4 separate regions of the Homo sapiens genome follow, and all the other regions are reported to be linked to region 4. Evidence: microRNA targets listed by miRTarBase, many of them from high-throughput screens and not tested one by one. Region 4 holds a microRNA gene; each other region holds the end of a gene's coding sequence.

What was found. Region 4 holds the annotated microRNA hsa-miR-6715b-5p (ACAGGCACGACUGGUUUGGCA, at 1,884-1,904, opposite strand). A microRNA usually pairs through its seed, bases 2 to 8, with sites in the 3' UTR of a target mRNA and lowers its output. Matches are read on the target gene's strand: a 7mer-m8 pairs with bases 2 to 8, a 7mer-A1 pairs with bases 2 to 7 and ends in A, and an 8mer does both.
Region 1: the mRNA of CES4A is a reported target of hsa-miR-6715b-5p. Seed matches in the 3' UTR shown: 7mer-m8 at 2,093-2,099 and 7mer-m8 at 1,829-1,835.
Region 2: miRTarBase lists TRMT5 as a target of hsa-miR-6715b-5p. The part of its 3' UTR that is shown has no 7-base or 8-base seed match.
Region 3: miRTarBase lists CSRP1 as a target of hsa-miR-6715b-5p. Seed matches in the 3' UTR shown: 7mer-A1 at 2,510-2,516.

What each region holds. Positions count from the first base shown.
Region 1 is chr16:67,008,671-67,011,670 of GRCh38, reverse strand. CES4A (carboxylesterase 4A) reads right to left here. Exons shown (of 14, transcript NM_001364782.1): 14 at 1,254-2,697. The coding sequence ends at 2,529. Among named protein-coding and RNA genes, the nearest start is that of CBFB, 19 kb to the left of the region's middle.
Region 2 is chr14:60,972,626-60,975,741 of GRCh38, forward strand. TRMT5 (tRNA methyltransferase 5) reads right to left here. Exons shown (of 5, transcript NM_020810.3): 4 at 2,850-3,116; 5 at 1-2,569. The coding sequence ends at 2,484. It also overlaps the pseudogene RNU6-398P. Among named protein-coding and RNA genes, the nearest start is that of TRMT5, 6.9 kb to the right of the region's middle.
Region 3 is chr1:201,482,038-201,485,153 of GRCh38, forward strand. CSRP1 (cysteine and glycine rich protein 1) reads right to left here. Exons shown (of 6, transcript NM_004078.3): 6 at 1,493-2,752. The coding sequence ends at 2,676. Among named protein-coding and RNA genes, the nearest start is that of PHLDA3, 14 kb to the left of the region's middle. RefSeq lists an enhancer at 951-1,280.
Region 4 is chr10:112,297,775-112,300,890 of GRCh38, forward strand. It overlaps MIR6715B (microRNA 6715b), which reads right to left and starts at 1,914; the gene lies at 1,838-1,914. It overlaps TECTB (tectorin beta), which reads left to right. Exons shown (of 11, transcript NM_058222.3): 8 at 295-457; 9 at 1,718-1,790. MIR6715A (microRNA 6715a) reads left to right here and starts at 1,838; the gene lies at 1,838-1,916.

The sequences.
Region 1 (3,000 bases), not on the chromosome of region 4:
TGATGAATGGCTGTTTGGTTGCCTGGGACATCCTCCGGCTATGCTTCCTGAGACCAGAGCTGCCACATCTCTGGTGGTAGCCACCCTTCTCAGGGATTGCTCCAGGTCTGGATGGAGGTGGCAGGATGCCTCAGACAGGCCTGGATCCAACTCCTGCTCTGCCTCCACCAGCTCAGGCCCTTGGGCAAGGCTTTTTAATGTCTCAATGCCTCAGTTTCTTCATCTGTAAAATGGGGATAATAAGATCCACAGTTGTTGTGAGGATTAATGTTTGCTTGGGAGGGGCTTCCGCCCTCCTCCACCATCCCTTTGCTTTGGGGGTTAGATCCTGGGGTATGGGGAATTAGATGTGCCTCATCCCACAGATCTGTGCAGCTTCCATTTGCCCCAGAGACTCAGGAACCTCTGGGAATAAAGGGCCTAATCAACACTAGTTTGGGACAAAAATACTGTGGGACACTATGCCAGTGTTCATAGCAGCATTATTCACAATAGCCTAAAGGTGGAAAGAACCCAAATGCCCATCACTGGATGGATGGATAAACAAAATGTGTTATATACTTGCGATGGAATATTATCCAGCCTTAAAATGGAAGGAAATTCTGATAGATGCTACAGCATGGATGAAACTTGAAGACATCATGTGAAGTGAAATAAGCCAGACACAAAAGGACAAATACTGCATTACTGTACTTATATCAGGCACCTGGAAGAGTCAAGTTCATAGAGACAGAAAGCAGAATAGGGGTTACCGGGGGCTAGGAAGAGGGGGTAACAGCAAGTCATTGTTGAATGGGTACAGAGTTTCAGTTTAAATGATGAAAAAGTTCTAAAGACAGAATAGTGGTGATGGTTGTGCAATGATGTGAATGTACTTAATGATATTGAACTGTACATTTAAAAATAGTTAAAATGGGCTGGGCGCGGTAGCTCACGCCTGTAATCCCAGCACTTTGGGAGGCCGAGGTGGGTGGATCACGAGGTCAGGAGATCGAGACCGTCCTCGCTAACATGGTGAAACCCCGTCTACTAAAAGTACAAAAAAAAAAACATTAGCTGGGTGTTGTGGCGGGCACCTGTGGTCCCAGCTATTCGAGAGGCTGAGGCAGGAGAATGGCGTGAACCCGGGAGGCAGAGATCACAGTGAGCCGAGAACGTGCCACTGCACTCCAGCCTGGGCGACAGAGCGAGACTCCATCTCAAAAAAAAAAAAAAAAAAAAAACCACAAAAAACAAAACAAAAAACAAAAATAGTTAAAATGGTAAAATTTGTCGTGTGTATTTTACCACCAAAAAGCCCACAGTGGCCAGGCATGGTGGCTCATGCCTGTAATTCCAGCACTTCAGCAGGCTGAGACGGGTGGATTACCTGAGGTCAGGAGTTTGAGACCAGCCTGGCTGACATGATGAAACCCTATCTCTACTAAAAATACAAAAATAAGCCGGGCATGGTGGTGGGCATCTGTAATCTCAGCTACTTGGGAGGCTGAGGCAGGAGAATCGCTTGAACTCGGGAGACTGAGGCTGCAGTGAGCTGAGATTTCATCATTGCACTCCAGCCTGGGTGACAAGAGCAAAACTCCGTCTCAAAAAAAAAAAAAAAAACCCCACAAAACAACGAAACAAAACTGTGGGACAGGCTGGGATACACACGGGCTGCAGGAGAGGCCAGAGGAATCTAGATGTGGCACTAAGACCTAAACTGATGGACAAGTGAGCGTGGGGTGTGGCTGTCCTGAGGGGTGCACTTGAGACCATGAAGGCAAAAGGCAAGTGTTTTGTACCCCAGGCAACTTTGCAGTAGCACCCTTTGACTGAGTGTAGCATCCAGGCACAGCCCACTAAGGAACAGGCAGCAATACTTCCTTTCTCTCAGGGCTCAAATTGAGACATCATTCACTTCACACACCCATTTTATAGGTGGAGAAATTCAGGTCTAATCAACACTTCTTTATTGAAGAGACCACCCCTGTGTATAGACTTTGGAGTGGCCCTGGGGGAGATAAGTGTGGGTGGGAGAGAAGATCCCAAACTACCAAAAGTTTGCTCCATGTCACAACCTGCCCTAGGCCTCCAGGCCAATGTGAACAGACAGGCACAAGGTTGAGCAGGATGGATGGTAAATGCCAAGCTGGGTGCAGTGACAGGGGCAGTGGCAGTCTGGGTCGACCTCCCATAAGAAGGAGTCACAAGGAGACATTGAAGGGTGGGAGGATTTGAAGAAGGGAAAAAAAGAGGTTGTCCTGAGGCTGGAGAGCTGAGCACAGTGTGGTGTTGACAGGGCCTGGCCTAACTGGATGTCAACAGTGAAGTAGAGGGGCATCATGGGATGTCAGGCTGGAAAGGGCAGTGCAGGTCCCACACAACAGGCAAAAGCTCTAGCTTTGGCCTGGAGGCAGCAGGGAGCTCCTGCAGTTCTAAACTGGGGTGGGTAGAACTCTTGTCCCCAGGTATGTCCATGGCTAGTCTCCCCAGGGCCTGGATGGTGGGGGCAAACCCCTCTTTGGCTCCTTCCTGCATAGCCACCCTTAGAATTGCCTCTGCTTCTCAGGTCTTTGAGACTGGTACAGACTCATCCAAAAAGCCATCTTCTTCTCCTTGAGCTTCATGCCCACTCTTGTGGTAAAATCCAGCTGCAGGTACTTTTCATCCTTGTTGTAGCGTGGCCAGCAGGGCAGATTCCCATCATTGGGGTTTCTGCCCAGAAATAAAAAAGAGAGGATTACCTGTGTTCCTTTTCATCCTGCTTCTTTCTTTCACCCTTCCCTCGTTTAATTTGCCCTTGGGACTTGGGGTTCCAGAGGGCTTTACGGAGATGATACTTAGAACTTTAATAAAGAGTAGGAAAGTGTGTATTGGGGTGGGCCTTCCAGGCAGAGCAAACAGTATGTGCCAGGTTGAGAGATATAAAAGACCAAGGCTTTTGGAGGAAGCACAAGTCAAGAGTTAGGTAAAAACAGAGTGTGTGTGTGGCCAGGCCTGGTGGCTCATGCCTGTAAT
Region 2 (3,116 bases), not on the chromosome of region 4:
CCTTTTTTGGTGAGAATAACATTGCCTCTAATCAGGGTTCTAAGTAAGTGTTCCCTGTGATCAAAATCAGTTGTAAATGATTGCCTATTAATGGTTATCATTAACCATCATTAACCATTAATACTAATGGTAATAAGATTTTACACATTTCATCTTTAAAAATGTCTTCTCATACAGATAGGTATTGCCAAATACTGCTATCAATCCAGGAGCATATGAAATTAACTGAGCATATTCATCACTTGGAAAGCATTTGTAAAATTCTTTTACATTTCTTCCCTTGAAATTTGCCTTTTAGCATGTCATTATTTTAATCACTTCTTACTGAAAATTAGGTTGAATCACCTCAATTGCAGTTAAATAGATTTTGAAACAGGGAAATTTCCTTTGCACTTGCACCTAGGTCCCTAAAAATGCTGAACTCAGAAAATATACTCACTAAAATTTGTGGGAATGGAAATCTTGTTTCTTTCTCTTTGATAGTATGACAAATGTGTAAGGATATTGTCATCAAATATTGTGATTCAAATATCGATTGTCAAAATGACTGTACCATATCAAAGTTGTTTTGCCTTGTGTTTTAGGCCATTCTTGCATTGCTATAAAGAAATACTTGATACTGGGTAATTTATAAGAAAAGAGGTATAATTGGCTCACAGTTCTCCAGGCTATAGGAAGCATAGCACTGGCATCTGCTTCTGGGGAAGCCTCAGGAAGCTTTTACTCATGGTAGAAGGCAAAATAGGAGAAGGCACTTCACATGGCGAAGGCAGGAGCAAGAGAGTGTGGGGGGCGAGTGCCACATACTTTGAAACAACAAGATCTCATAACTCATTATCTTAAGGACACCACCAAGGGGATAGTGCTAAACCATTCACGAGGGCCACATATAAGGGCTCACACCTGTAACCTTCACACATTGGGAAGCCGAGATGGGAAGATCTCAAGCCTAGGAGTTCAAGGTTACATTGAGGTGTAACTGTGTCTCTACACTCCAGCCTGGGCAACAGAGCAAGACCCTGTCTCTAAGTAAAAATAAAAATAGAGTCAAAGAACCATCCAGAATCATTTCCTTTTTAAAGTGACTATTTATGTCGCTTTCAATGTCCTTAACTCTTTAAGCAACTGTTCTTGCCAAAGGCCAGTAATCTTAAGTTTATTTTCTCTGGATATATTCAGCTGCTGCATCCAAACATAATTAATTCACACCATCAATAAATGGCTTTGCTTGGCTAACAAATGATTGACTTAGAGACTTACTGTTGTTGCAGCCTCATTTTCATTTTGTGAAGAAATTCTGCTTTGTTATTTCCATTTTAAATTTTCTAATTTTTCTAACAGTTGCTTGCCTGTGAGTTGGGAATACTGTGATGAGTGGTTTGTCTGGTAATGTCAATGGTTATTCTTTTAGCTTAGCTATATAGATGCTTTGTCGTCTAATTCAACATCAAAATAATTCACACCCTACTGTACTTTAAAAATAACAACAAAGTCCACTTTTCTTGTTTTGCTATAATAGATATGCTCTGGTAATAAAAAATAAAATGTGGGTTCATGTGATATACATGGCACTCAAAATGCTGTCGTTACAACCACATCAGTGATTTGTGATGTGTCAAACAGCAGTGTGAAGTGATGACAGTCACATTCAGTGTGTGTTGCAACCACTCAACTCTGCTATTGTTCAAGAAAGCAGCTGCAGTCCTCACTTCAGCAGCACATATACTAAAAAACTGGAATGGTACAGAGAAGATCAGAATGGTCCCTGCGCAAGGATGACATGCAAATTCGTGAAGCGTTCCATATTAAAAACAAAAAACAGCTGCAGATGATATGTAAACAAATGAGCATGGTATGTTCCAATCAAACTTTATGAACTCTGAAACTCTTAATTTCATACAATTCTAATTTTTAAAACTGATACATAATAGATGTCATAAAATTTTCACGTCACAAAATGTTCTTTTGATTATTTTTCAACCAATGGAAAACGTAAGAACATTATTAGGCCACAGGCCATATGAAAACAGGTGGTGGGACAGATTTGGCCTGCAGGATGTAGTTTGCCTGCCCCGTTCTAAATAATTTCATTTTTTATTACTTTTATGGTGATAGTTAATTGGCAGTAAAGGAGTAGTTACGTAAAGGACAACTACAAAGTGGTGTTAATACCTTCCTAGTTAGTACTCAATCACCCTACTTTCAAAAATTATTTTCCCTGAGAGAAAATATTTATTCATATTTATCCAATAAAAATTAGATATATTTTGTTATAAAATAATTGTATGTTATAATTTAGATAACAGGGAATGTATTTGGTAGCCTTAGTTCAGTTAAAGTTTAATTGGTAATCCTCAATTTGTAAAATAAGGCAAAGTACAAGGGTTCAATAGTAAAAACCAAACCCTAAAATTTTATTAAATAATACAAATTCTATTTCACTACATGTAAGTCTGGTAGGGAGATGGAGAAAACATTTCCAATTAAGTGTTTGAAACAATTTGTGTTTTTTCGTCTGAAAAGGCTTCAGCCGTCCTCTGCCTTTTAAGAGGTGGATCTTCATGATTCTCTGTAATAAATCCAGAAAACCTATTTTAGGTAAGATATTAACAGTTGAAAATACTCTTAAAAAAACAAACAATATAGGCATTTTTAATCTAGTCAACTTAAACATGAAATAACATTCTTGCAGATTTACTATTTTAATGAAATAGCCTTCTATTAGACTGAACTAACACAGTAGCTTTCTATTAGACTGAACTAATACTGCATTAAAATTTGTAAAACTGGGAGGAATTAGTTACAATTGAATGGCAAGGTTTACATTTAATTTCCCAGAAACTGCTCACCTGGATTTCTGGTCTGGTTCTTGTAGAGGACAGAGGCAGGAATCTGAAACGTGATGCACAGCATTTCCTTGTTTGGGGCCACATTTCTTACCAGGTGAACTGAACTGCATGCCTCCAGAGAAATGCCTAACACAGCTCCAGCCCTTTGCCGAACATCCTCAGCAGGGTTAGCATCTTTGGAAAAGCTATAACAATGCACTATGGGAAGGAACTCACTGCTGCATGGCTGCCCATCTAAAAGCCACTTGAAAGCACTAAGAAACTCTA
Region 3 (3,116 bases), not on the chromosome of region 4:
GGCTGGCCCTTCACCGTCCAGTGAGTGCTTCCTGGCCTGGCCGCAGCTGGCTTACAGCCTACTGCCTTTACCCAGGTCTTATTCCCAGGAGGTGCGTCAGGGCCCCTTGCCCACCGTGGGGCTGCACTGAAAAACAGTGGCCCGGGAGCAAGACAGCTAGTGGTGCAAGGCACAGGACGGTCGCCGACAGGCCCTCCCGATCAGCCAGCAGAGGGCAGCCTCTCTCCAGCTTTGGGCCCCAAAGGCTCCCATCCGGGCCACTCCTGTAGGCCCCTCCCAGACAGAAGGGTCCACCTGGGTGTGTGGAACCAGCCGTCCTCCTGGCTGCGGAAACTTGTCCGGAGCACCTTTCGTGGGCCACCCCCTGTGCTGGAGCCAGAGGGGTTACCAAGATGGAGCCCTTGACCCCGATTGCAGAACTCCCAGCCAGAGCCCACCCTGGGCTGGCATTCCCTGAACTCCTCCAGCTCTTCTCCCGGTCATCTTGTACTTTTCTATTGCTCTGCACCATTGATGGGTGTTATGCATGCATAGGTGCCTTTCTCAGAGTCCAGGAGGGGCCTCTGTCAAGGCCACTGTTGGAGCTGGTCATCTGGGAAATAGGTACACGAGGCCTTGTTGTTATTAAAGCATCTGCTTTTGTTTTGAAAACTTAGTGTGGGCACATTTTCGAGAAGGGCTGAAGCAAAGCAGCACAGCCCCAACGCATCAGGCAGGTATGCCTAAGATGAAGGATGCCGCAACCCCTCACATGAACCTATTTCCAAAAAAAAATGTGGCCTTCCACGGACTTGCTGTGGGGGCCCTAACAGCACAGCAGGCTGAGCCAGGCCCCTCCACCACACCCCTCCTAGGTAGAAGTGAGCTTTCTAGATTTGACGTGAAAGTTCCTCTGGTTGAGTTTCCCTCTTAGGCTGGGGCTTTCCGAGCTGGGAGAAGTTCTGAGCACAGTTTTGGGGCCTAGCTGAGCCCCTCCAAGTCCAAAGTCCATGCAATTCCCAGGCCCAGATTTGGGGGTGGAGACCAGACAGGACAAGCCAGTGGTGTTTGGCTGGTCGGGTCACTTCAGACAGTGTGGTTCAGTTGGCATTGATACTGAGAAGTAATTGGTCCTTAGAAAAAGCAGGAACGAATCCACTTTGATTCATTTCCACCAGGCTGCCTGCTTTTTTTTTGAGACAGAGTTTCACATTTGTTGCCTAGGCTGGAGTACAATGGTGTGATCTCAGCTCACTGCAACCTCTGCCTCCCGGGTTCAAGCGATTCTCCTGCCTCAGCCTCCCAAGTAGCTGGGATTACAGGCACCCACCACCATGCCTGGCTCATTTTTTGTATTTTTAGTTGAGTCAGAATTTCACCATGTTAGCCAGGCTGGTCTCAAACTCCTGACCTCAGGTGATCCGCCTGCCTCGGCCTCCCAAAGCCCCTGCTAATTTGATTGCTCCCATTGAGTTCCCTCCCAGCTCCACAGACACAGGATTGGACACCAGAGTTCTGGTCTAAACAGCTTTATTGACCAGATGAGAAATCAGCTTGGGTACAGCCCATGCCTGCAGCCCTTTCAGTGGGTGGCTCCAGATAGTGTTGTCCTTTCAGTTGCTGGGAGCGGTGAGGCCCAGCCCTTTCCCCTTCCTCCCACCACTATTCCTAACCTGGGGCCTGGCAGGGGTGGAGTGATGTGATCTAAGGGTCCCTGGAGAAGGGTGGAGTGGAAGAGGCAGGGTCTTGGGTTAAAGGGAAGATTCTGAGGTCTCAGGGCAAAGGGAAAGGTGTTTGGATGAAGACTGAGGCAGTGCCTACCTCCCTCCACATCTGAGGATCAAGCAGGTGTGGCAAGAACAGAGCCCTGGCCTGGGCTCTGCTGGCCGCAGCCTCAGGAGCCAGGGTTAAGGCCAGAGATAAATGAAGATTTGAGCCATTGATAAATGCCAATATATGTTTCAGGTATTTCATTAGGATCCTCCCATCAAGCAGGGAACTAGATGTTTGAGAAGATCAAACAACATCCTGACTTTGGGGTCCTTAAGACCTGGGTTATTCTCCTCCCAGTCCTAGTGGGAGGCTATCCATTCCACAAAGACTCAAAGGCAAGAGGCCTGGAGAAGCAGGGGCTCCTAGGACCCTGCCTGCATGCCTCTCTGCCTCCAATAGTGACTCCCTAAGCTGGGACTCCTCAGGCTTACTCTGAGGGACACCAGGAAGCTCAACCTCTTTCCCACAGAGGAGAATCTCTGAGATCCAAAAAACCCAGCCTTCCCCCCTCCTCATCTTGGTCTTGCTTCCCTCTCCCTCCAGCCTGTTGCTGCTGCTCCTCTGGGTGCCAAGATGTGTCCTCAGGTGTCTTGGTCAGCTGATGATGGACACGCAGCACAGGAGGCTAAGAACAGAGCTCTGTGGGGCGAGGTGTGGGGAGAGGGGCCTGCTCTCACCTAGACCCAAAACACTGAGGTCTCCTACTGGTGATGGTGTCAGATCCCAGGCCTGGGGAGCCCTTTAGTGGGGTGGGACCTCAGGCAGACCCCCAAACCAAAGGGAGCCAGATGCCCAAGTTCAAGTCATTAGTGATATGTGGCAGGGCTGACAGAGAAATAATCCTGGAGGTCTCCAAAGCTGCTGGGAATGGAATGGCGATGAAAAGCGCAGGAGTGGGCAGGGTGTGGTGGGTGATGGTGGCCTCACTCAGAGTGGACCAAGGCCCCAGCTCCTTGCCCAAAACCAAAGCCCTTGGGCCCGAAGTTTTTAGCATAACATCCTGCAGAGAGAGGAGAGAGATAAGGGCATGTTCTTCCTCCACCCCCAGCCACACCACCCACCCTCCTGCTGAAGATCCCCCACTCCTAGTGCCCAGCCAGACTGCTAGGGAAGGAAGGTCCACTGGTACCCCCTCACCTCCACAGCACCCCAATCTCAATAGTAAAATAGCGAAGAGGCTCTTGGTTGTACCCTGTACCCATTGCCCCTGCCACCAAAATTATAGAAGCATCATCTGCTGTAAGAACATTGGACTGGGAGTTAGGAAGCCAGGGTCTAGCCCTATGCCTGCCTCAATTTGCCAGATGATGCTGGCCAAGTTGCTTTCCCCCTCTGGTCTTGTTTCCTCATCTGTACAATGAAGG
Region 4 (3,116 bases):
CCTAGGGATTTTCTTTCTTTGGGACACAGGTGTAACTTACTAAAAGTGTGACTCTTATAAGTCACTCCCCTCCCATCGTACCTTGTCTATAGAATGAGGACAGTAATACCCATCTCCTAGCTCATCAACTTGACCTCACAGTTGTGAAGATCAAGTGAGGTGCTGCTAATCAAAATGCCTGGGAAGGTTAGAGGTCATATAACCACCTCGGGAGCCTTGTGTGTAAATCGCTCAGCAGCTCTTGCTGGAGTTCAAGGAGATGACAGTTCACTCTTCTTTCCCCATCTGCCTCAGCTGCCCCACGGATGAAACCGTCCTCGTGCATGAGAATGGGAGAGATCACAGGGCAACCTTCCAATTCAATGCTTTCCGGTTCCAGAACATCCCCAAACTCTCCAAGGTGTGGTTACACTGTGAGACGTTCATCTGCGACAGTGAGAAACTCTCCTGCCCAGTGGTGAGCTGCCTCTCTCCAGAAGGACAATGTTACCTAAAGGGTGCCAGTATTGGAGGAGCTGGAGTTTGAGTGGGGAGATCATAACCAGGCCAGGGCAGCTGTGTGCTGAGGACATCTGGAGGAAATGGCACTGAGTATAAGGGCAGATGCTCGTGAGGGCAGATGCTCAGGGCCCTATCTGCCCTGCCTCCAACAACCCACATGGTCTGGCATGTGTCGCCTAACCTGCTGGGACCTGCTTTCTCATCCTTAAGCAAAGTGTGTTAAGTAATGATGGCCCTTCCCTCATCAGAGGGCAGTGTAGGTAAATGAAAGTGATAACAGACTTGGAAATACTTGGAAGAAGTGAAAAGGGCAAGGGAAATTCAAGGTCTAGGTGGCAGGGACAGGCCGTGGAAATAACTCAAAAGGTGGGTGTTTTTAGTCTTGACTGAACAGCCCGAGGGTTCACCTCTGTGACTTCAGAGAGATGCTGCAGAAATTCCCGACACTGGATCATGGCTGATTTGACCACGTGAGAGGAAGGCCTGGGCAGGCTGTGCTTTAACAAGCCAGCAGTCATGCCGGTGCTCACTCAAGCCTGAGAACCACCACTTAGACACTTAGACATGCCAAATCTCAAACTGTTCTCCTTTCTGGTCTCTTTCAACTGGAGACCTCGGTGTTTCCAAAGAGGCTGCTATCCACATAGCCTATAGTAACCAACAAAAATAAGGTCATAATCTCTATTGCTGTTGTTTCATTTGGCCAGAAAATGGTTCTTTATGAGCACAAACAGCAAAAGGGAAAGAAACCAGAGAGTGCAGAGCCAGGGAGAGGAGGGGAGAGACACTGTACAGTTGATCAAAGGATAAGTATCAATGCCATATTTTTAAAAAGAAAGAAAAGAAAATGAACCAGAATACAATTGCAAGTGTCCACTTCTCTAATTATTGTGGTGAGAGTGGTAAGTAGAAGCCTTATCAAAGGAAATGGGATCAATCCCTTCCACACTCAATGACCTCTTCCAGAAGGATTCCCTCTGGCTTGAAGAGTTAACAAAGTAAAGCTTTCTCTTTGTATTCAAGTTGGAGAAGGGATGAACAGTGTGTCTTCTGGGTTATTTTTTAAAAAGGTAACTCATCTCTGTTGACTGGGGAATTGTGACTCCACCCCATTTGTGACCTTTTTAAAATATCTTTTCTTTCTCTTTTCTCCCCTTTGCTCACGCATCATCCCACCTTCCCCGCTTCTCTCCTGTCTGCCTCTCTGGGTCTTCAGACCTGCGATAAACGGAAGCGCCTCCTGCGAGACCAGACCGGGGGAGTCCTGGTCGTGGAGCTCTCCCTGCGGAGTAAGCGTCTCTGTTTTCCTCTGTTTTCCAAACGGTTGAGTTCACGCTGGGCTGCGTCCACAGGCACAGCCGGTTTGAGCATTTTTACTGAATTGCCAAACCAGTCGTGCCTGTGGGCACAACCTTCACCTGCTCCTGGAGTCTTCCAGCCAGGGGTGGGGAACAGCTCAAGCCAAACGAAGGAGTTGAGGTTTGTTATCTACTCTGAAAGTTCTAACTGCACCCTAAATTCAAATACCCCCAAAGAATCAGGAAGTGCTGAGCTTCCAAACAGAGCATGCAGTGAACAATAATAATAGAAAATGAGATGTCATGGGGCCGGGCTCGGTGGCTCACGCCTGTAATCCCAGCACTTTGGGAGGCCGAGGTGGGCAGATCACTTGAGGTCAGGAGTTTGAGACCAGCCTGACCAACATGGTGAAACCCCACCTCTACTAAAAATACAAAATTACCTGGGCTTGGTGGGGCACGCCTGTAATCCCAACTACTCGGGAGGCTAAGGCAGGAGAATCACTTGAATCTGGGAGGCAGAGGTTGCAGTGAGCTGAGATCGCGCCATTGTACTCCAGCCTGGGCAACAAGAGCGAAACTCCGTCTCAAAAAAAAAAAAAAGAAAGAAAGAAAAAGAAGAAAGAAAGAGAGACAGACAGACAGACAGAAAGAAATAAAGAAAGAAAGAAAGAAAGAAAGAAAGAAAGAAAGAAAGAAAGAAAGAAAAGAAAGAAAGAAAGAAAGAAAGAAAGAAAGAAAGAAAGAGAAAGAAAAAAGAAAAGAAAAGAAAGAAGGAAGGAAGGAAGGAAGGAAAAATGAGATGTCATGAGAATGTCATGTGCAAGTCAAAAAACCTTTACTGAGTATCCAGCACTGCCTGGCCTGGCAGGGCACTAGGATTTCAGAAATAAATGTGACCCAAGCAGGCCCTGTCCTCAAGGGATTTACTGTCTAGCAAGGAGAGAGATGTTAGACACTAAGGGAAAGAGAAATTACTGTTAAGGAGGGTGACAGTGGGCTGGTGCCATGGTTGCACAGTTGATCATCACTAATGTGAAAATCCAAAATCCGAATGCTCCCAAATCTGAAACTTTTTGAGCACCCACATGATGCTCAAAGGTCATGCTCACAGGAAATGCTCATTGTAGCATTTTAGATTTCAGATTCCAGGTTTTCCAGTTAGGGATGCTCAACTAGTATAATGCAAAGATTCCAAAATCCAAAAAAAAATCTGAAATCTGAAACACTTCTGGTCCCAAGCATTTTGGATAAGGGATATTCATCCTGAATGGAGCAAAGGGATTCAACCTAGTACAGGGCTTGCAGAAGAGCTCT